Homo sapiens: one gene and its partners. The protein of the gene in region 3 purifies or fractionates together with the protein of the main gene of each other region. This does not show direct contact. Each region holds a gene or a part of one and is shown on either strand. Other genes may lie near its edges.

What was found. Proteins that work in one complex are often made in the same cells at the same time.
Region 1: the proteins of DDX19B (region 3) and GM2A purify together in Homo sapiens (affinity purification with mass spectrometry; 2 studies listed by BioGRID and IntAct, with this or other methods). This does not show direct contact.
Region 2: the proteins of DDX19B (region 3) and TRIM29 purify together in Homo sapiens (affinity purification with mass spectrometry; 2 studies listed by BioGRID and IntAct, with this or other methods). This does not show direct contact.

The regions. Positions count from the first base shown.
Region 1 is NC_000005.10:151,248,575-151,256,188, forward strand, and holds the start of GM2A (ganglioside GM2 activator isoform 1 precursor), read left to right. Parts: upstream 1-4,610; 5' UTR 4,611-4,642; coding exon 4,643-4,723; intron 4,724-7,614.
Region 2 is NC_000011.10:120,114,110-120,121,130, reverse strand, and holds part of TRIM29 (tripartite motif-containing protein 29), read left to right. Parts: intron 1-465; coding exon 466-558; intron 559-2,809; coding exon 2,810-2,908; intron 2,909-4,070; coding exon of another isoform or gene 4,071-4,172; intron 4,173-5,716; coding exon 5,717-5,793; intron 5,794-7,021.
Region 3 is NC_000016.10:70,323,172-70,330,192, forward strand, and holds part of DDX19B (ATP-dependent RNA helicase DDX19B), read left to right. Parts: intron 1-1,413; coding exon 1,414-1,516; intron 1,517-2,402; coding exon 2,403-2,517; intron 2,518-6,120; coding exon 6,121-6,298; intron 6,299-6,659; coding exon 6,660-6,897; intron 6,898-7,021. UniProt on the Homo sapiens protein: ATP-dependent RNA helicase involved in mRNA export from the nucleus.

The sequences.
Region 1 (7,614 bases), on a different chromosome or scaffold from region 3:
TGATATCTGGGGCAGATTGGCTAATGAAATGCTGTGCCATTAATATTTTGCCTTCGGGAGAAGAAGGGTCCAGATTAGTATATATTTAAAGGCTTCCTCCAGCCTACCATAAAACATGGCTGGATTTTCCTCCTTGCCTTATGTAACCTCCCTTACTTTATCATAATTTACTGCCTTAGTTAATCCCTTTCTCATTCCTCCAAGGACAGCCTCAAGAAATTTAGCCAGGTGGTTCATTCCCATGGGGGCGTTATAGTTTCAATTAGGATCAGTAGTGGGAACTGTGTCTGGGCCTCGGTAATTGCCCTGAGGGTTTCAGGTGGATAATTCATCCACTTCCCTGCTGGCAGCCTCAAAGATTTGTTCCTTTCCTGAGGGAGTGCCAACAGGTTGCTAGAATGAATTGACCATCTCTCCATGAGAGATCAAAGGCTAAGGTCAAAGTGTGGAACTCATCTGCAAATTTCCTAGGATTCTCAGAACAGCTTCCTAGCTTTTCCTTACATTGTTGAATATTAGTTATAGAGAAGGGGGCCTGCACTAGGACTGGCCCCTCAACTCCTGCTACTTCCCTAAGGTGTAGCAGGGCTGGAAGAAGAGCTGAATACAGGGTTCCCCTCCGAATGTGAGGGGGACTTAGTAGGGTCTCTGGTGTTTGCTCCTGGGGTTGAGCCTCAGGAGCACTTGCAAGGGGCTATATGGGGGTGGTCACTGTTCACTCTGAGAGACAGGTGGCCCTTGTAAGAGGGGGTCATCTATAATATGTAGTTCTCCCTTAGAACTTTCCTTTGTGGGGTGGGTTCTGGGAGTTTCACAGATTGTTAGGTTTTGGTAAAGCGTCATGGAAGTCTGCATGTACAAGATTTCTGACCATGTGCTCTGTCTCTTGCAAAATAGGTCTAATTGCAGGATGATGTCATAATTAAGGCTACCATTGACTACCCATTTTTTCCAGGCTGGGCAGCTCATAATGGAGCCAGACAGTACTGCAGAAAAAAATTATATGTTTTCTCTTTAGATTGTCAGGGTCAAATTGATCGCAATGGTGGAGGACGTAGCCGAGCGGGGAATCAGGTGGAATAGGTAGAGAGTTGCCCACAGTGGTCTGGAAAAGAGAAGAGGACTGACCAGGTGACCCAAATTTTACCTGAGGCATCCTCCTGGAAAAATTCTGGGCCCAGACTGGGGTCCCTGGGAGCATCTCCCCATTAGGGCCCTGACTTAGCCTGTTAGATGTCTCTGACCTTAGATAGGTGCAGGCATTGCTTTGGAATGGTTCCCTCCACCACTGAAGACCTACTGTGAACTTTCCTTAAGGTTTTCCCATGCCACTTAAAGCAACTTTTTTTTTTTTTTGAGACAGGGTCTTGCTCTGTTGCCCAGGCTGGAGTGCAGTGGCATGATCTCGGCTCGCTGCAAGCTCTGCCTCCCAGGTTCATGCCATTCTCCTGCCTCAGCCTCCGAGTAGCTGGGACTACAGGCGCCGACCACCATGCCTGGCTAATTTTTTGTATATTTAGTAGAGATGGCGTTTCACCGTGTTAGCCAGGATGGTCTCAATCTCCTGACCTCGTGATCCGCCTGCCTCGGCCTCCCAAAGTGCTGGGATTACAGGCGTGAGCCACCGCAGCCGGCAAAGCAACCCTTTAACTCTCTCAATTTAGGCAATAATAGATTACCTTTCATGAATTCCCCCCACTCCCCATGCATCACACAGACCACCTACGACATGCCTGGACCCTCTGACTCATATAACCTTTTTGCATAGCTAGGTGGGTTTTCTGTCCTTAGCCAGTCAAGTGGGGGAAGGGAAGGGAAGAATTTAGCATAAGGTTTAAGTCACCTGAAACGTGTGAGTTTGCCCTGGATGAGCTGCTGCTGCTGCCAACCCAGACACAGGTAGGGATCTATAATCAGAAAGGACAGAAAAGAGTCTTTCACCCTTCTGGGCAGGGCAGCCGTCCCTGTTCACTCTTTGGCCTTCAGAGAACACTGGAGAGTGGCCCCGGCCAGTTTCCCTCAATTACCAAGGAGCTACTAGGAAACGACCAGTGAAAGACTGAAAAAGCAAAAAACAAACAAACAAAAAACAACAAAAAACAAAAAGGAATAGAACTCAGAAAAAAGAGAGAAAAAAAGAAAAGGAATAGGACTCAGAAAAATGAAAACAAGGAAAAAGACTTCTCAGTGACCAGGCAGTGGCGGTCAAGTGCTTCGACACGGAAGCCTTTCAGTCTCACCAGAGAGTGGCCCTGGCCAGAAACTTACAATTTCCTCTGTGCTTAGGCGCTGTCCACCGAGTTGGGTTCCGAGTTGGAAAGGAAAAGAGAGAGGGAGAGAAAAATTCCCCTGCATTAAAAGGGAAATGGAGAAAAATAAATCCCAAGCTTTGGGCCTACCTTCTCTCCTGGCTGGCTTGCCAAAATATGTTACCAGTAGAGGGTTTTGACTGAAAGTTGTCTAGGTTCTTGGCGTTTTTGAACAAAGAATTGGAGAAAACACACAGAAAAGCAAGGGAAAAATGGAGCAATGAAAGAACAAAAGCAAGGGTTTATTAAAAATGAAAGTACACTCAACAGTGTGGGAGCGGGCCAAGCAGCAGCTCAAGGGCCCAGATACAGAATCTTCTTGGGTCCAAATACCCCCTAGAGGTTTCCCATTGGCCACTTGGTGCTCACCTCATGTAAATGAAGTGGTGGCCCGCAATCAGTCTGACTGGTTAATCAGAGGCCGAAGTGAAGTTACAAAGGTCATGCTCCTGTGCAAACATCTGATTGGTTGTGGAAAGCAACCAATCAGGCTGAAGTGAAGTTACAAAGTTGCACTTCTATGCAATTTTAACATATAAACTGAAATGTAGCATAGAAATCGAAATGTACTTTCAATTTCCCATCTGCTGCACAGAAAAGGTGGGGGGTTGTAAAGAGAGTAGCCTCTGGTCCTCTTGTTACTTAGGTGTGGAAAGTTAGGGTTTTCCTTTCGATTTAGTTCTAGGAAGTCAGCGTGAAATGGCCTTAGGTTCCCTGCCTGCAGACTCTATTCTCCTACCTCAGTTGGGCTAGGTGAAAGGGAAGAGTTGATCAGAATGGGAGGATCATTATGTAAAGTATGGAGCTTAGTTAATAATAGTGTACCAATGTCATGCCCTCAGATTTAAAAAAAATTTTTTAATTTTTTATTCTTTTGCCACCTCCTTGTCGCTGGCAGTGCCCCCCAGTTATGCACAAGCACAAGCTCTGGGTCTGCAGTCTGAACCCCCGGCCAGGCCACGGGTGTCTTATCAACAATAGAGGAAACGAACAGAACTTTGTAGTATTTTTGCAACTTTTCTGTAAACCAAAATAAAAAGTTTACTTTAAAAAAGATGATCAGGTGAGTTTTAAATTCTACACATGCATTCATGTACTCAACAGATTGTCTATTATGCATCAGGCACTGGGTATAAATGAGTGCCTGCATCATGATGCCACCCCTTGTGTAGTTTACAATCCTGTGGTAAATTGGCGGTATTGGTAACAACATCCCTGTTTTTTCTAAAAGCAAATCTCCAACTAGTATATTAACCTGACAAAATCTTGGCTGATGGGGTGTCTAAAAAGAAGTCTTGCTCTATTCCTTCCTAGCTGTGCGACCTTGGCAGAGCTAACCTCACTGTGTATCAGTTTCCTCAGTGCTAAAATTGGGGAAGAAAAAAAAAAAGCATTCCCTTGTGCGTCCTTAGCATGCTTTCAAGCAGTTACTAAATGTTAGTTTTTATAACGGTTATAATTATTAAAAAGATACGGATTCGTGAAGTCAAGAGATCAAGACCGTCCTGGACAACACGGTGAAACCCCGTTTCTACTAAAAACACAAAAATTAGCTGGGCGTGTGGCGCGTGCCTGTAGTCCCAGCTAGTCGAGAGGCTGAGGCGGAAGAATCGCTTGAACCTGGGAGGCAGAGGTTGCAGTGAGCCGAGATCGCGCCACTGCACTCCAGCTCGGGCGACAGAGCGAGAGTCCGTCTCAAAGCAAAAAAAAAAAAAAAAAAGACACACATATGGGGAAGCGTAACATGGCAGAGAGTCTGACATTTTTGTCCGGAAGGACTTGGGGATGAAAACACTGAATCCGCGGTTTCCCAAAGGTCCTTCCAAAGGTGACGGCCCCGGCACGAGTTCACAAACCACAGCTCCGCCCCATCCCCTGCCCGGCCCCGCCCTTCCCAGGAGCTCTGCTCCGCCCCGCCCCCGACTCCGCTCGGCCCCTCCTCGCGCCACGCCCCCGCCCCTCCCGCGCGCGCAGCTCCGCCCCGCCCTCGTGATCCCGCCCCAACCTCGTGCTAAGCTCCCTTCCGTTCCAGCCGCCTTCAGCCCCGCCGCGCTCAGTTCCGCCCCTTTCTCTTCCAACTCCGCCTACGCCCCAGAGAGGGAAGGCCTTGACACCTACGCTAGAGAGACAGGCTCCAATGAAAAGAGCGAGGGGGCGGAGCCGGGAGGAATCGGTCCAATTCTCGGCCGGGAAGTCTCTGGCCGGGACGGGGCAGGGCGAACCTGCCAGTGACTGGACTCAGCTTCTTTGCGTAACCAATACTGGAAGGCATTTAAAGGCACCTCTGCCGCCACAGACCTTGCAGTTAACTCCGCCCTGACCCACCCTTCCCGATGCAGTCCCTGATGCAGGCTCCCCTCCTGATCGCCCTGGGCTTGCTTCTCGCGGCCCCTGCGCAAGCCCACCTGAAAAAGGTGAGTGCACCCTCTTTTAAGAGTCTGTTTGCAGCCTCCTGGCCCAGCTACGGGTGTGCGGGTCTGGCTGAGATATGGGGGTGGCCACTCCGTTCTCTAGAATTGGTTCTCTGCACTAGAGCCTTCCAAAGTAACTAATTATGGGATTCTGGTCTGTACAATGAGGGTGGCCTCTAAAGACTTGTTCTGCTCCAGGCCCTTTTTGGAGAGATTAATCTCACGTCTGCACTCTCCTGCCCTCCCTCCAAGCGCCGGAGTGAAAATGCAGACAGCCTTAAAACTAAGGCATTGCCCCCAGAGATTCAGTCCTGTTAACCCTGCACCTTACTCCTGACCCCCACTCCTTATGTCCCCCATGATAAGGCCTGCTGCCTCATCTCTTCCCCTGCTCGAATGCCCTGAGGTCTTCCTGAGAGTTGGGAGGGTTTGAGAGCTTTTCCAGGCCAGAGGATCCAGATTTGCCCATCTGGTGACAAATACCCAGGCCTGTGACCCCGCTGCCCTTGGTTATGAGCCACTGAGACAACAGTCCCCGTACCCTCCAAGCTTCCTCCTTCACTTCTCATTGACACCGCTTCTTCCTTCACTTCTCATTCACACCGTGCTGCAGATCCCTGGGAAAGGGAAGTTCTGTAATCCCTTCACCTGAAAAAGCCTCGTTCCTGGCTTATTGCAGCTAGCCCAATGTCTTTCAGATTCAATCTATGTTGTTGCAAATGACAAGATGTTCCCCCTTTTAAAGGCTGAATAGTATTCTGTTGTGTATATATGCCACATTTTCTTTATGCATTCAATTTGATGGATAATTTCTTCATCAAGTGTCTGTTGATGGATAATTTCTTTATCCATCAAGTGTCTGTTGATGGACACTTAGGTTATTTCCATATCTTAGCTATTGTGAGTAATGCTGCAATGAATATGGGAGTGCAGATAGCCCTTCGAAATGTTGATTTCAGTTCCTTTGGATATATACCCAGAAGTGGGATAATGGCTCATATGGTAGTTCTGTTTTATTATCTCATTTATATGCGGATTCTAACCAAGTTGAACTTACAGAAGTTGAGAGTAGAGGTGGGGTCTCACTCTGTCACCCAGGCTGGAGTGCAGTGGGGCGATTGTAGCTCACTGCAGCCTTAAACTCCTGGGCTCAAGCAGTCCTCCCACCTCAGTCTCCTGAGTAGCTGGGACTGCAGGTGTGGGCCACCAAGTTCTGCTAAGGAATAGGCTTTGAGATTTATTGCACACCAGGGTGACTATCGTCAGTAATGTATTATATACAGAAGCTCCTTAACTTTCCATGAGGTTATGTTCTGATAAACCCATCATAAGTTGAAAATGCATTTAATACAGCTAACCTGAGAATCATAGCCTAGCCTACCTTAAACATGCCTAGCCTACCTTAAACATGCCCAGAACATTTACATTAGCCTACAGTTGGGCAATATCATCTAACACAAAGCCTATTTCATAATAAAGTGTTGAATGTCTCATGTGATTTACTGAAGACTGTACTGAAAGTGAAAAACAGTATGGATACTAAAAGTACAGTTTCTACTGAATATTTATCACTTAGGCACGATTGTAAAGTTGAAAAATGGTATGTCAAACCATTGTAAGTCAGGAACTGTGTGCATTTCAAAACAACTAAGAGAATACATTTCACATTGCAGTGTACCCCATAAATGTATACAACTATGGTTTGTCAATTTAAAAAAAACCCAAGACCAGGTGCGGTGGTGCACACCTGTAATCCCAGGACTTTGGGAGGCTGAGGTGGACAGATTGCTTGAGCTCAGGAGTTCAAGACCAGCCTGGGCAACATGGTGAAGCCCCATCTCTGCAAAAATACAAAAATTAGCTGGGCGTGGTGGTGTGCGCCAGTATTCCCAGCTACTTGAGAGGCTAAGGTGAGAGGCCCAGCTACGCCTGAACCTGGGAGGTCATGGCTACAGCTGAGATTGCACCACTGCATTCCAGCCTGGGTGACAGAGTGAGACCCTATCTCACAAAAAAACCCCAAAAACAAAAACCCGATTCCATTGCCTCTTGGCTGCTAGCTGTGGTCAAGACATCACACATTTCTGGTAGCAAAGGGATAGGTCCAACCCTGATCCCCTCCCTTCTACCATCTTGGAAGTGTTTGAGAGTGAGGAACAGTGCTGTGTAGGGGAAAGCGGGTGATACTGAAAGCAGGGAGGCTTGGCTTCTGATCATTCCCCTGTCTCAATCCATGGATTTCCTGAGTCTTGTTCTCCTCATCTGTAAGATGGGTGTGATGGTGCCAACGTGCATCTCGGGGAGTTGTCGGTGAAGGGAAATGCATTCATTGATGGAAAATTTCTAAAATCAGAAACAAATAAAGCCATATAAATCTGTGGGCTTGGCCTCACTCTGCCCCCGAGGCAGAAAGTCTGTTTTGCTTGTTGAATGAAGGAACGTGGACCTTTTGACTTCATTTGCCTGGAGAATTTATACCTTGTTCCTGAATGTTGGCTGAGAATGCTTCTCTTGGCTCCAGGGCTGGCCGCTATGAGGTGGAGTCTGGCTAGAGGCTGCTAGCTCACCCTACAAACTTGTTGTATATGCTGTGGGTATGGATGCCATCTCAGACTAGGTCTTAGATTGGCAGTTTTGAAGAGGCCCTGAGACATTATAAAGGTCACTCAAAATCACACAGCACCTACATCTTCTTGGGGCTCATGTGATTCAGAGCCCTGACCTTGAGTCCCTGGGCCAGATAAAGATGGGGGTGGGGGGTGACAGTGAATGAACATCAGGAAACCTGAATTTCAGTTCCTCTTCTAGCATAACTGATCTTGTGACTACAGGCTGTGATGGGTGTTAGATAACAGGGGAGGATATCTAGCCCCATGCTAGTCATATAGTAGGTG
Region 2 (7,021 bases), on a different chromosome or scaffold from region 3:
TTTCAGCTGGGTATCGGTGGTGGTATCAGTCCCCACTGCTTCCTCACAAGGCTGTTGTGAGAGCCCAGGTGTGCGGGAAGGAAAGCACTTGTGAAGTGAGGCTCTGATCTCCCGGGAAGCAGCAGCCTGGGTGGGCCCCTGGGAGGTGTTTCTGGCTCATTAGGCCACTTCCAGGAGGCCCCACCCTCACGTGGCTGAGAGCCTACTGCTTCTGCCCTCGTGGTTGCCATGGCCTCTCCAAGTTTATGCTGATGCTCTCTGCACGGTTACTAACAGAGTCCTTCTACTCTCAAAAGCATGCCAATTTGGGTGATAAATTAGTTGATTGACTTATGTCAGACCCAAAGGACTTCTCTCAGTGGTGGAATCCAGGTCCTGTGATGGGCACTTGGGCAACTTTTTGGGGGCAAGGAGTCCTGATGAGACAATTTTCTGCAATGACAGCCCCCTTCATCTGCTTCACAGGTGGGGTCCGGACATCATACCAGCCCTCGTCTCCTGGCCGCTTCACCAAGGAGACCACCCAGAAGAATTTCAACAATCTCTATGGCACCAAAGGTAGGTGGTGGCTCAGCTCAAGGGTGCACAGAGTTCATGTGGGGCTGTGCAGGCAGGAGGGGCATAGAGGTGGGTCCAGGGGCACAGGGCTGGGACCCCAGTGTGAGATGAATGTGGGAAGCTAGGATGGGTGGAGGGTCCAGGCATGGGTAGGGAGGGGTCCTACCTACCGAGCTTAAAGTGTGTGTGTGTGTGTGTGTGTGTGTGTGTGTGTGTGTGTGTGTGTGTACATGTGTGGGGGACACCATTAGTTAGGCTGGAGGAAAAACAGCCAGGAATCTCGGCATCCCTGGAGATCCCTGAGTCTGTGTGCTCTTCTGATCCCTGAGGAAGGATCTGGGGAAAACTGGGTCTGAGCAGCCACCTTGGGCTTAAGTGTGGGGAATGCGCCACCCCCCCCACAAGTATGAGGGCACGAGGACCCAAAGAGAATCTCTACTGATTTGAGTACTTCTGCAGTGAAAAGTCGTACAGTGGTTAGTTGTCAACTTGGCTGTGACTGGAAAGGAAGGCACGGCAGGAAATGGGGCTGGCCCTGGAGCTCCAGGTGGTGAGGCAAGCGAGCAGCACCTTAAGACCCAGATGGGATGAAATGGGTGTGGGGATGTGGCTTCCCCAGGGGAAGCTGCTAAGTTCAGGGTCTCCCTCTGCCCAGTGCTCTGAGGGGACCATTTGCTCAAGGGCAGGGCCATGCATTCAATGAGACCTGGTTCTGGGAGACCCTGGTTCTGTCCTGGGGGCTCCTGGTCACATGCCAGCCATGCACAGGGAGGGAGGGGACTGGGTCAGCCCCCACCCTAGACATAGCACTGGAGGACTCTTCAGTGAGGGCAAGACTCATGGAGACTGGAGGGTCAGGGGCACCAGAGCAATGCCTGGGCCTCTACATCCAGAATTGGATTCACAGCCGTGATCAGCGGCACCCCTCCTCCACATATGCAGTAGACCTTGGGCACCTTGAGGACAGAGCTGTGTCTGTCCTGTTCGCTGCTACAGGCCCAGAGCTCAAAAGTAGGAGGGGGTCAGGAAGCAGTTGTTGAGAGAGAGGCTAAAGGCATGAGTGAACAGGAGGGCAAGGTGTCTGGCCTCGCGGAACCCTGGCTGGACGTGCTTACTGAGGCCTTGCTACAGAAGCTGCCTGGGATCCCTGTGGGAGGGCTTTGCACAGGGGCAGGTGGCCAACCCCAGCCATCTGTGACCCCTGAGCCCAAAAGTCAGCCCCCAGCCCTCCCCACAGGCTGCTAAGGAGTGAGCTTGACTAAGGAGGTCACTGATGCTTCAAGCCTGGCAGGTGGGGGTGTGGTGCTGGAGAAGTGTGCGTCACCCATGGGGACTCTGAGCCCCCCACTCCAGTGCCCTCTGAGTGCCCTGGCAGCTTCTCCCACCCCTTTCCCACTGCCTTCTTCTCCTCTGGACTATAGAACATGTCTGCACATAGGCATGTGTTAGCCTATTCAACTTGGCAACTATCAACTGTCTTGTCCCCAAGTTTTAGGATGTGTTTGTATTCATTCGTTCGTTGGTTCATGCATTCTATCCATCAACCATACAATGAGCACCTTCCAGGAACCAGGCTCTGTGCCAGGCACCAGGTGTGATGCAGGGGCCAGACAGGCACATTCCCAGTTCACGTGAGCTCACTGCGGGAGACAGACAATTGAACATGTAATTGCGACCCAGAGGGTAGGGGTTGCAGGACGATGTGGGGATGAAGCTGAAGGCACATGCAGACGTTGGGAGGTGCCATGTAAGCTGACACTTGAAGACCCCACCCATGAATCGCCGAGGGTGGCAAGCAGGAGAAGTGTCCTAGGCAGAGGACAGGGTCTGGGCACATAGCCTGGGGCAGGAGAGAAGATGGAGTGTCTCAGACACTGAGGCTTAGCCTGGTTTGAATGTCCAGTGGTGGAGGGAGGGCAGAGGTGAAGTCAAGAAGTGGGAGATGGTGGGTGGGTGGTGGGGGTTGGGGGAGCAACTCACGACAGAGCTCTGGGCTGCTCTTGGGACTTTGTCCCTTATTCTGAGGACAGTGGCCTTTAGGTAGGGCAGGGACAAGACTATGCTTTATATTTTAGAAAGATAGCTTTGGTGGCAGAAGGATGGGGGTGAGGCGTCACTGGGATCACACAGTGGCATCCTGGCTTAAGTTGTGGCCAGCGGCTAGAGAGTCATAGACCTGGCTGTGTCCTGGTCCTGCCTCCTCTCCCACTCCCAGCTGTGGGGGCCTGACAGCCCTTCTTTGTCCTGCCAGGTAACTACACCTCCCGGGTCTGGGAGTACTCCTCCAGCATTCAGAACTCTGACAATGACCTGCCCGTCGTCCAAGGCAGCTCCTCCTTCTCCCTGAAAGGTGAGCTTGCCCACCCTGGCCCCTGCTTTCCTCCACAGCTGCCTCACACCTCCCAAGCCCTGCTTGGGTCTCTTCGCTGAGCTGCTAGTTCCTCCCTCACCTCGTGGAGGAGAGAGGCCTGGCCTGAGAGCCCGGGAGCTACCGCCATGGTCTTTGCTGAAAATGAGGGCAGGGGTGGGGGCTGGGCCACATCAGCGTTTCCCAGGGCTTGTTTCACCGCTCTCTAGTCTCTAACTACACGCTGCAACAACAGCTCTCAGTGGTCAGGACCGGGGGACATGCCATACCCCCTGCACTCGACCTCTCTGATCCTCAGGATGCTGCTTCTCCTACTGCAGAGTTTATTTAACTCCCAGCGTTGGCTGGCTCTAGGGTCCTGTGGCCATGGGGCACCTGCCAGCATCCTGCAGATCCAATCCTGCAGGCGCCCCTTTGGGAAAGGCAGGACCAGACGACCCTAAGTCCCCCCAAGGCTGATCCTCTTTTCCTGCACTCTGTCCCCCGCCTGCCTGTGGTGCTCCCAGCACTCTGACAAGGCAGAGTGATTGACGCCTCCTGTCCCCTGGGGTTGGGGGCATCCTGAGGGGGCAGGCTTGAACCAGACTCTGGCTATGGGCCCCAGACCCTCATGTATCTCCTGAAAGATCCCAGGGACAGCTCTAATGGCTGTGGTGGGAGTAACCCTGTCTCTCTTCTGGCACCCCAAACATCTGGCCTGGAAGTCAAGATCAGCACATTGGGTGGGCTCAGGAGAGGGAAAGGGGCTATGCAGGGCAGAGAGACCCCTGAACAGTGGTCTCTGAGGCCTCATCACTCAGTTGTCCCTTCCGGCCCAGGGTCCTATACTATACCCAGGACAGGGATTCTTGGAGCTGCCGGCAAGAGGGAGGAGACAGGACTATGGGTGGAGGGTCCCAGCCTGCAGGAGCCCCGGGCATGTCTTAGCTCTGATCCGGGCCTGGGGAGCTCCAGGACTTGCCTTGGCCTGTTTGGCTTCTAGCAGGCGCCTTTCTGCTCTCTGCTCAAGCCTGGCCCACAGAGCACCTGGCAGGGGAGGTGGCCGCTCTCAGGTGTGATTCAGAGCAGCCCCCAGAATGAGGTGTGGGTCCTTTTGGCCCCTCTGGGACCAGCGCTGTGCCACTAATGCCTCTCTCTCTCCCAGCAGGCACTGGGAAAACCCCTTATCAGTTCACCACCTTGGGACAGGCCACTGCAGAGTTTTCCAAACCACTGGGTCGCAGTGGGCTGTCTAAAAATAATCCCGGTATCTGCCCATTTTCCATCCCTCCCCTTTTCTCTCCCACAGCGGGGCAGGTGGGACATGGGGGGCTCTCTGCCACTTCTAGGGTGTGCCGGTCCCTTCTCCCCAGAGCTCCCTGGAGAGGGATGCATGCCCCACCTGCCACCCCAGCATACTCTCTATCTGGACTTCTGCCTGCTGCACAAGGCGGGTGTCTTGGGCCACCCTGACCCCACCCCTGTTTCCATTCTCCCCTCTCTCATGGCTGGCATGGGATTTTCTTTCTGGGAACTGAGAGATGAGGCCTGAATTACCCCTCTTAATCTCCACTCAGGATCCCTGGAACCCCCCTTTCCAAGGCTGCTCCCACCCTCAGATGCAGGAAGAGACCCAGGTTCTTTGCTCTGTCTCCTCCCCCTCCTCCTTGCTCAGTGCCAACCTGGGAAGGGCCAACCCAACTGGCAGCCTGGCGGTGCTCATCATGAGCCTGACCTGCTCATCCTCGCTTAGAGCAGGGCAGGAGAGGGGCTTTCCCGAGACAGACCGCATGCAGCCTCTCACTGGACAGAGATCTGGCCCAGGACAGACCCTGCTTATTTCTTGAGGGCCTCAGCATCCAGGTCATGGCCTGTGTCTTCCCAGGCGTCCCTGCAGGCTGATGGCTGACACTGAGAGTGCCTTCACTGTGCTGTGAACCAGAGCTCCTTTCAGGTCTGTCTGGGCTGAGGCGCAGGGAGTCAAGGCGGCCCCGTCTTAGACTAGCATCTTTGCAACCAAGCTCAGAGAGCGCACCTGCTCCAGGCCTCTTGGGCTTGCCATCCTAACCCTGGGTGGCGGCCACAATGACAGATTCCTGCACCTCTCTAGGCCCTAGTCTCTGGCTAGTGAAACAGGGGAGGGGCCACAAAGCCAGGGAGAAAAAAACATGAATTTGGGTTTTGGATTTCCGGCACTCTGTCCCCCGCCTGCCTGCGGTGCTCCCCAGCACCTGGTTTGCTGCTTATGAGCTGTGCAACTCAGGCAGACTGCTGAGCTCATAGATACGGGGCCAGGCTCAGTGAGGAGACATCTACAAAGTCCCTTCCACAGTGCTTGGCACAAGTGGGGCTCCGTGAATGGGAAGCATCGTCCAAACAGCACAGGGGAGTCCAAGTGAGCGCCTCCTGCCGGGAAACTCTGGCAGGCCATGCTTATGCGTGGCGCTCCTGGGCTCTGGGAAGGGGAGGGCCCGTGGTGTAAACCTCCGGGGTGGGTGAGTGGAAATCCCTGCAGAGCAGTGTGATGCTGCGCTGGATGTGGGGGCAACACTCCCCTGCTGCCTGGTCCAGCCCACCTGGCCGGCTCCTCCTCCTTCTGTCTGCTTTGCTGCCTCCTCCCTTTGGCCAGCCTCCCCAGGATTTTCGGTTGCGGCACCCTGGCTGCTGCACGCGTGTTCAGACGGCTGCATTTGGTAATGGGCTGGATGATGCTTGGTGGTCACTTTGGAGAAGGCAGCTGTGCTGCTCTGGGCCCGGGCACCCCTGACCACCAGCGCTGCTCCCTTTGACCTGAATCTCTTGTCTTCCCAGGCTATCCCTCCCTCATGCGGAGCCAAAGCCCCAAGGCCCAGCCCCAGACTTGGAAATCTGGCAAGCAGACTATGCTGGTAAGGGAAGTGCTGCCGGGAGGGCCTGGGCACATCCAGAGACCTGGGCACTGAAGGGGGCTCCCTGGAGGCAATCGGTTCCAGGGCCTGTGGGAGGACTTCTCTGGGCCATGGGGTGGAGGAGAAGGAGGCAGCAGTGGCCTGAATACCTGTACACAGCAGAGGGTAGTAGAGACCCAGGGCTAATGGGCAGGGGACTAGCTAAGCATACACTCTCTGGACCTCAGTTTTCTGATCTATAAAATGGGCAGCCTTGATTTTTTTATTTGGCAAATGCTTGTTGGATGCCTATGCTAGTGGAATGGCAGCTTGGGTTCTGCCAGCTCTGGGATTGTAAAACAGCCCAGTGGGAGGACAGGCCTCCTCCTAGAGATGGGTCCCACCTCCCTGGGGGCAGTTCTCCAGTTCTGACAGCATAGAGGCCATTGGGGTGATAATGTGGGGGTGGGAGAGACTGGAAAGTCGGGAATAGATATATTTAGGGTCAATATCTAATGACCCGAGGCCAGGCATATCAGAAGAGCAGCATGACAGGGAAGCATGGCTTTGGGGTCCAGGCCACCTGCTGACGGTGGGGTCCTGGATGAATTAGATACCCTCTCTGAGACTCTTCCTTGCTTTTTATTATGTGGGGACTGAGATGATCCCCAGTGCCCGTTAGATCTGACATATCTGACCCTGACTGAGACCTCAGTGATCGGGGACTGTAGTTCACATGCAGAGCCCCCATGTGCCTGAATGCCTTGCTCCTGAAGGTCCATTCTAGGCCCTGCTACAGGAGTCGGCCACTGCCGTGGCATGTGGATGGCATCAGGAGCTCTGCTGGAACCAGGGCCGGAGCCCTTGTTTCTTGCTGTCCTTGCAATTGGAGGTCAGAGCAGGAGAGGTGATTTGCCCTGGACCACAAAGAATGGCTGGGGTTGGTTTAATTGGAGAGGATCTTTAATTGCTGGGGATGGGAGCTAAGTGATCGTGTATGTAATTTGGAGCTGGACTCAGGGGCATTGCAACAGCAGGACTGCAGAAAGCAGATATGGGGAGAAAAAAGAAGGTTTCTGTTCTAGACTCAGTCCTTCCCCTCCCTACTACATACTTTTCCACCCTCTCAGAGCCTGGGGCCCTGAAGAGAAGGCTCATCAGCACTTTGAGGCCCCTGGCAGAGCAAGGTTTTGGTGTCCAGCAGGCACCCAGCACTGGGAGAGTGGAGACAGGCGCTGGGCTGCAGAGA
Region 3 (7,021 bases):
AGCCTGCAACCTCCACCCTCCACCTCCTGGGCTCAAGAGATCCTCACATGTCAGCCTCCCAGGTAGCTGGGACTTCAGGTATGTACCACCATGTCCAGCTAATGTTTGTATCTTTTGTAGAGAAAGGGTTTCGGTATTTTGCCCAGGCTGGTCTCAAACTCCTAGGCTCAAGAAATCACCCACCTCAACCTCCCGAAGTGCTGAGATTGCAGGCATGAGCCACTGCACCTGACCTTGCCTGCTTTTTTTCTTTTTTCTTTTTTTTTTTTTGACACTGAGTCTCGCTCTATCACCCAGGCTGGAGTACAGTGGCGCGATCTCGGCTCACTGCAACCTCTGCCTCGTGGGTTCAAGCGATTCTCCTGCCTCAGCCTCCCAAGGAGCTGGGACTACAGGCGCCCACCACCATGCCTGGCTAATTTTTGTATTTTTAGTAGAGTCAGGGTTTTACCATGTTGGCCAGGCTGGTCTCAAATTCCTGACCTCGAATGATCCACCCACCTCGGCCTCCCAAAGTTCTGGGATTGCAGGCATGAGCCACCGCGCCTGGCCTTGCCTGCTTCTTGAGCTGCTTCTTGCCACCTTCAAGGCAAGACTTGGTTCTTGCCACTCTTACCCCCTACCCTGCTACCAAAACCTACATCTTGTTTTTTTTAGGCATTTCAAGGTAGATTACACTTTTAAATCAAGTGGTTAAGGTAGGATCTCCTGAAGTAGATATCTGGGCAAAGACTTGAAGGAGAGAAGGGAGTTAGCATGTTATCTGGGGACAGTTGTCCCAAGCAGAGCACAGCCAAGGCAGAAGCCCTAAGACAAGAGCATGACTGGCATGTTCTCTGAGCAGTACTAGGGCCCTGTGGTGGAACGAAGTAAGGGAGAGAGAGTAGTAGGAAATGAGAGCTGAGGTGTAATGGGGAGCAGATCATGCAGGACCTGTATGCCATTATGAGGGTTTCAACTTGTACTCTGAATGAAACGAGGAATTATTGGAAGGTCTTTGGGCAGAGAAGTAATGTGAGCTGACTCACATTTTAAGAATCAGTAGGCCAACTGCAGTGACTCACACCTATAATCCCAGCACTTTGGGAGGCTGAGGCAAGAGGATCACTTGAGCCCAGGAGGTTGAGGCTGCAGTGAGCCAAGATTGTGCCACTGCACTCCAGCCTGGTCAACAGAGTGAGACCTAATCTCAAAAAAAAAAAAAAAAAAAAAAAAAAGAAGAAGATGTGGAGTGCTTCAAATCCCACCAGAAAATCTTATTTCTATAGTGCCCTGTTCTTGTGAAGCTAGCATATGTAACTCTGCTACATAATCCAAGGTCTCCTATAAATGAATTTTTAATACTCATTTTTTTAAACTTTGTTAACTAAAAGGTTGAGATTTAAGCTCCTAACTAGTTTGTTTCTTGCGCAGCCCACAGAACTTAATTGCCCAATCTCAGTCTGGTACTGGTAAAACAGCTGCCTTCGTGCTGGCCATGCTTAGCCAAGTAGAACCTGCAAACAAATACCCCCAGGTAAGGATTTATGAATTTAGGTTTTCTACTAATGCATAGATAGAAGGGGATTTCCATTTGATGGATTAAAAGACAAGCTATGGGCTGGGTGCAGTGGCTCATGCCTGTAATCCCAGCACTTTGGGAGGCCGAGGTGGGCGGATCACCTGAGGTCAGGAGTTCTAGACCAGCCTGGCCAACATGGTGAAACCCTGTCTCTACTAAAAATAAAAAATTAGCTGGGCCTGGTGGCATGTGCCTGTAATCCCAGCTACTTGGGAAACTGAGGCAAGAGAATCATTTGAACCCGGGAGGCGGAGGTTGCAGTGAGCTGAGATCGCACCATTGCACTCCAGCCTGGGCAAAAAGAACGAAACTCTGTCTCAAAAAAATAAAATAAAAGCCAAGCTATGCATTACTTTTTACACAAACTGAAACTCCTTAAATTGAGCACAAATAATACGGGATATCTTCCAATGGCAATAAAAATCCTGTTTCCTTTTTCCATGGTGTGCCAGTTCTGGGATGCTTCTTACAGGCTTGGCTCCTTTACTTGCAGGAAAACCTGTTTCATCAGCAACTGCCATCCATTAGAAAGTTCTGAGAGCTTTCTGAGTAAACGAAAAGAAAGCTAATGCCAATTGGAACTTTAGATCCTTGCTCATGGGTGGGTTTTTGTATTGCAGTGGCCAGTATCTGTTTTCAAGTGTCTTTACCCAGCCAGAGTTCTGACCCCTAAGAATTCTAGCTTATGACTCTGTAGCTTAAAGAATCAAATGGTGTACATTTTAATGTACATATTCTTTCCTTCAGCTTCAGCTGGAGGAGTGGCTAAGTACTAATGGTAATTCCCCTTTGCAAAAGAGCTATTGTCTTGAATTTGCACTCTGCATTCTTTTCCTGCCAGTGTCTATGTCTCTCCCCAACGTATGAGCTCGCCCTCCAAACAGGAAAAGTGATTGAACAAATGGGCAAATTTTACCCTGAACTGAAGCTAGCTTATGCTGTTCGAGGCAATAAATGTGAGTATGTGAATTTGGTCCTAAATCATCAACCTAATTCTTTTTATTTTGAAATATTTCAAAACCCACCCAATAGTTGAAATAATACAATAAACACATGTATGTTCTCCAGCTAGATTCAAAAACTTAACATTTTGCCATATTTGCTTTACATAAATGTATACATTTTTGTCAAACCATTTGAAAGTAAACTGCAGACATGCACCTCATGAGGACATTCTTTGCCATACCTATGGATACCCTTTTATCACAACCAGGAAAATTAACAGATTTCCTAGAATAACTAATACCAGTCCATTTTTATTCCTCCCCAGCTGTTCCCAAAGTCTTCCTTTATAGCTGTTTGGTTTTTCGACCAAGATCAAGTTAGCGTTTATACGTTGCGTTTGGTTGTTGTACTTGTTTCTTTCAATCTAGAATTGTACCCCTACCTTTTTCTCTCCCTATTATATTTAACATTTTGCACAGACCAGACTAGTTGCTTTTCAAATATTCTACATTCTGGCCGGGCGCGGTGGCTCACGCCTGTAATCCCAGCCCTTTGGGAGGCCGAGGCGGGCAGCAGATCACGAGATCAGGAGATTGAGACCATCCTAGCTATCATGGTGAAACCCCGTATCTAATAAAAATACAAAAAAATTAGCCAGGCGTGGTGGCGGGCACCTGTAGTCCCAGCTACTTGCGAGGCTGAGGCAGGAGAATGGTGTGAACCTGGGAGGCAGAGCTAGCAGTGAGCTGAAATAGCGCCACTGCACTCGAGCCTGGGCGACAGAGCGAGACTCCGTCTCAAAACAAGCAAACAAACAAAAAACAAACAAACAAAAATTCTACATTCTAGATTTGTTTATTTTTATTTATTTATTTTAGAAACAGAGTCTTGCTCTGTCACTCAGGCTGGAGTACAGTGGCATGATCTTGGCTCACTGCAACCTCTGCCCTCCGGGTTCAAGTGATTCTCCTGCCTCAGACTCCCAAGTAGCTGGGATTACAGGTGCCTGCCACCATGGCTGGCTAATTTTGTATTTTTAGTACAGATGGGGTTTCACCACGTTGGCCAGGCTGGTCTCAAACTCTTGACCTCAGGTTATCCATCTGCCTCGGCCTCCCAAAGTGCTGAGATTATAGGTGTGAGCCACTGTGCCCAGACTTCTTTCTTTTTTTTTTGAGAGAGAGTCTCGCCCTGTCGCCCAGGCTGGAGAGCAGTGGCACAGTCTTGGCTCACTGCAAGCTCTGCCTCTGGGGTTCACACCATTCTCCTGCCTCAGCCTCCTGAGTAGCTGGGACTACAGGCGCCCACCACTACGCCCAGCTAATTTTTTGTATTTTTAGTAGAGACGGGGTTTCACTGTGTTAGCCAGGATGGTCTCTATCTGCTGACCTCGTGATCCTCCCGCCTTGGCCTCCCAAAGTGCTGGGATTACAGGCGTGAGCCACTGCGCCTGGCCGCCTTCTTTTTTTTATTTTGAGACAGTTTCGCTAGGTCACCTAGGCTGGAGTTCTGACTCCAGGCACGAGCCACCGTGCCTGGCCACACCCAGCTAATTTTCTAAAAATTTTTTTTGTAGGCCAAACATGGTGGCTCATGCCTGTAATCCCAGCACTTTAGCAGGCCGAGGTGGGTGGATCACGAGGTCAGGAGATAGAGACCATCCTGGCCAACATGGTGAAACCCCATCTCTACTAAACATAGAAAAATTAGCCAGGTGTGGTGGCATGTGCCTGTCGTCCCAGCTACTCAGGAGGCTGAGGCAGGAGAATCACTTGAACCCGGGAGGTGGAGGTTGCAGTGAGCCAAGATCGTGCCACTGCACTCCAGCCTGGGCGATAGAGCAAGACTCTGTCTCAAAACAAAACAAACAAAAAAAAACAAACAAATTTTTTTTTTTTTTGTAAAGACAGTGTCTTGCTATGTTGCCCAAGCTGGTCTAGAACTCCAAGTCTCAAGCAATCCTCCTGCCTCGTCCCCTCAAAGTGATGGGATTACAGGTGTGAGCCACTAGGCCAGGACTGAATTTGTTTAATTGCCTAATTTATTTATCTTCATTAGCAGAATAAAAACCCAGAATGTTTATGGCTATTGACTCTGGGGCTTATTCTGTTAATTATTTTTTGTTACTAATTTTTTCTACACTAGTTTGTTTTACAGTTAATATTATTTAAGTAATTTTAAAAGTGTTGTTGGCCGGACATGATGGCTCATACCTGTAATCTCAGCACTTTGGGAGCCTAAGGTGGGTGGATCATTGTAAGGTTAGGAGTTCGAGACCAGCCTGACCAACATGATGAAACCCAGTCTCTACTAAAAATACAAAAATATTAGCTGGGCATGGTGGTGCACACCTGTAATCCCAGCTACTCAGGAGGCTGAGGCAGGAGAATTGCTTGAACCCGGGAGGGGGAGGTTGCAGTGAGCCGAGATTGCACCACTGTACTCCAGCCTGGGCGACAGAATGAGATTCTGTCTCAAAAAAAAAAAAGTGTTAGAGGTTTGGTTGAGTTTTATGGATCTCTGAAACAAATGTGACCTTATGAAAATCAAGTCTGCATACAGTGTCCTAATGCCAACTTGAGGCCAGTTCTGAAAAGTAAATAATACAGTGAAACTTATTGGGAGATAATCATTTAAAATTTTGCAATTTGTATTCGAATTAGAAGGGTAGAGAATTCTGAATTTTTTTTTTTTTTTTTTTTTTGAGACAGAGTCTCAGTCTGTCTCCGGGCTGGAGTGCAGTGGCGCGATCTCGGCTCACTGCAACCTCCGCCTCCTGGGTTCAAGCGATTCTCCTGCCCCAGCCTCCCAAATAGCTGAGATTACATGAGCCCACCACCACACCCAGCTAATTTTTGTATTTTTAGTAGAGATGGGGTTTCGCCATGTTGGCCAGGCTGGTCTCGAACTCCTGACCTCAGGTGATCCGCCTGCCTCAGCCTTCCAAAATGCTGGGATTACAGGCATGAGCCACCGTGCCCGGCCCTTTTAGTTATTTTTAAATGTACAATATATTGTTGACTGTAGTCACCACATTGTGCTATCAAATGCTAGATCTTACTTATTTTAATTGTATTTTTGTACCCATTACCTTTTCAGCATTTTTGTCTGTTTTTATGTCCATTAAATGCTATAGTGATATCCTAACCTTTCCTTAATATATTAATGCAAACAGCAAAACATTTGCATTAAAATATATAATAGGTTTAGAATTTCTCAGAGAGAAGAGCTGGCTTTGCCTTTGAAATACCCATGGAGGCCGGGCACGGTGGCTCATGCCTGTAATCCCAGCACTTTGGGAGGCCGAGGCAGGTGGATCACCAGGTCAGGAGTTCAAGACCAGCCTGGCCAAGAGAGTGAAACCCACCTCTACTAAAAATACAAAAAAAAAAAAAATTAGCCAGGTGCAGTGGCAGGTGCCTGTAATCCTAGATACTTGGGAGGCTGAGGCAGGAGAATCGCTTGAACCTGGGCGGCAGAGGTTGCAGTGAGTCGAGATCATGCCATTGCACTCCAGCCTGGGCAACAGAGTGAGACTCTGTCTCAAAAAAAAAAAAAAAAAAAAAGAAAGAAAGAAATACCCACACATGGAAAACATCTTGGGGTCTCCACAGTGGAAAGAGGCCAGAAGATCAGTGAGCAGATTGTCATTGGCACCCCTGGGACTGTGCTGGACTGGTGCTCCAAGCTCAAGTTCATTGATCCCAAGAAAATCAAGGTGTTTGTTCTGGATGAGGCTGATGTCATGATAGCCACTCAGGGCCACCAAGATCAGAGCATCCGCATCCAGAGGTAGGGATCTCGAGGGTGGGGGACTCCTCAGATTCCCCATCTGCAGTGTCTTCTCCCTTCACTTCAGATGCCTCCTCTGGCTTCTGCCTGGGTCTTGGCTCTCGTACTCTCAGCAGCATTTGTTTGACGGGCCACTTCCGTGTCAGCGCTGGCCACAGTCCCTCCCAGCCTGGGTTGAGAAAGGAGACCTAGGGACTCTCCCCCAACCCCTGTCCCCATCCCAGGCCTGCTGCTCCTCCTCCCCAAGACGCTCCTCTCCCATCAGCCTTCCTGGGCATCTAGACCCTCCCAGCTGGGAAGGCTGTGCTTCTGTCGCTTCCCGGGGCCACCTGGGGCCACCTACCAGGGCCTTCCCTTGCAGGATGCTGCCCAGGAACTGCCAGATGCTGCTTTTCTCCGCCACCTTTGAAGACTCTGTGTGGAAGTTTGCCCAGAAAGTGGTCCCAGACCCAAACGTTATCAAACTGAAGCGTGAGGAAGAGACCCTGGACACCATCAAGCAGTACTATGTCCTGTGCAGCAGCAGAGACGAGAAGTTCCAGGCCTTGTGTAACCTCTACGGGGCCATCACCATTGCTCAAGCCATGATCTTCTGCCATGTGAGTAGCAGTGGCAGTGGCAGGCCTGGCCCTTCCCTCTCAGCCAGCTCCCCACAGGGCTCAGGAGGACTGGATGCCCCTGGGTGCCATGGGAAGAAACGAAGTGGTTTGTTCTCCTAAGGTT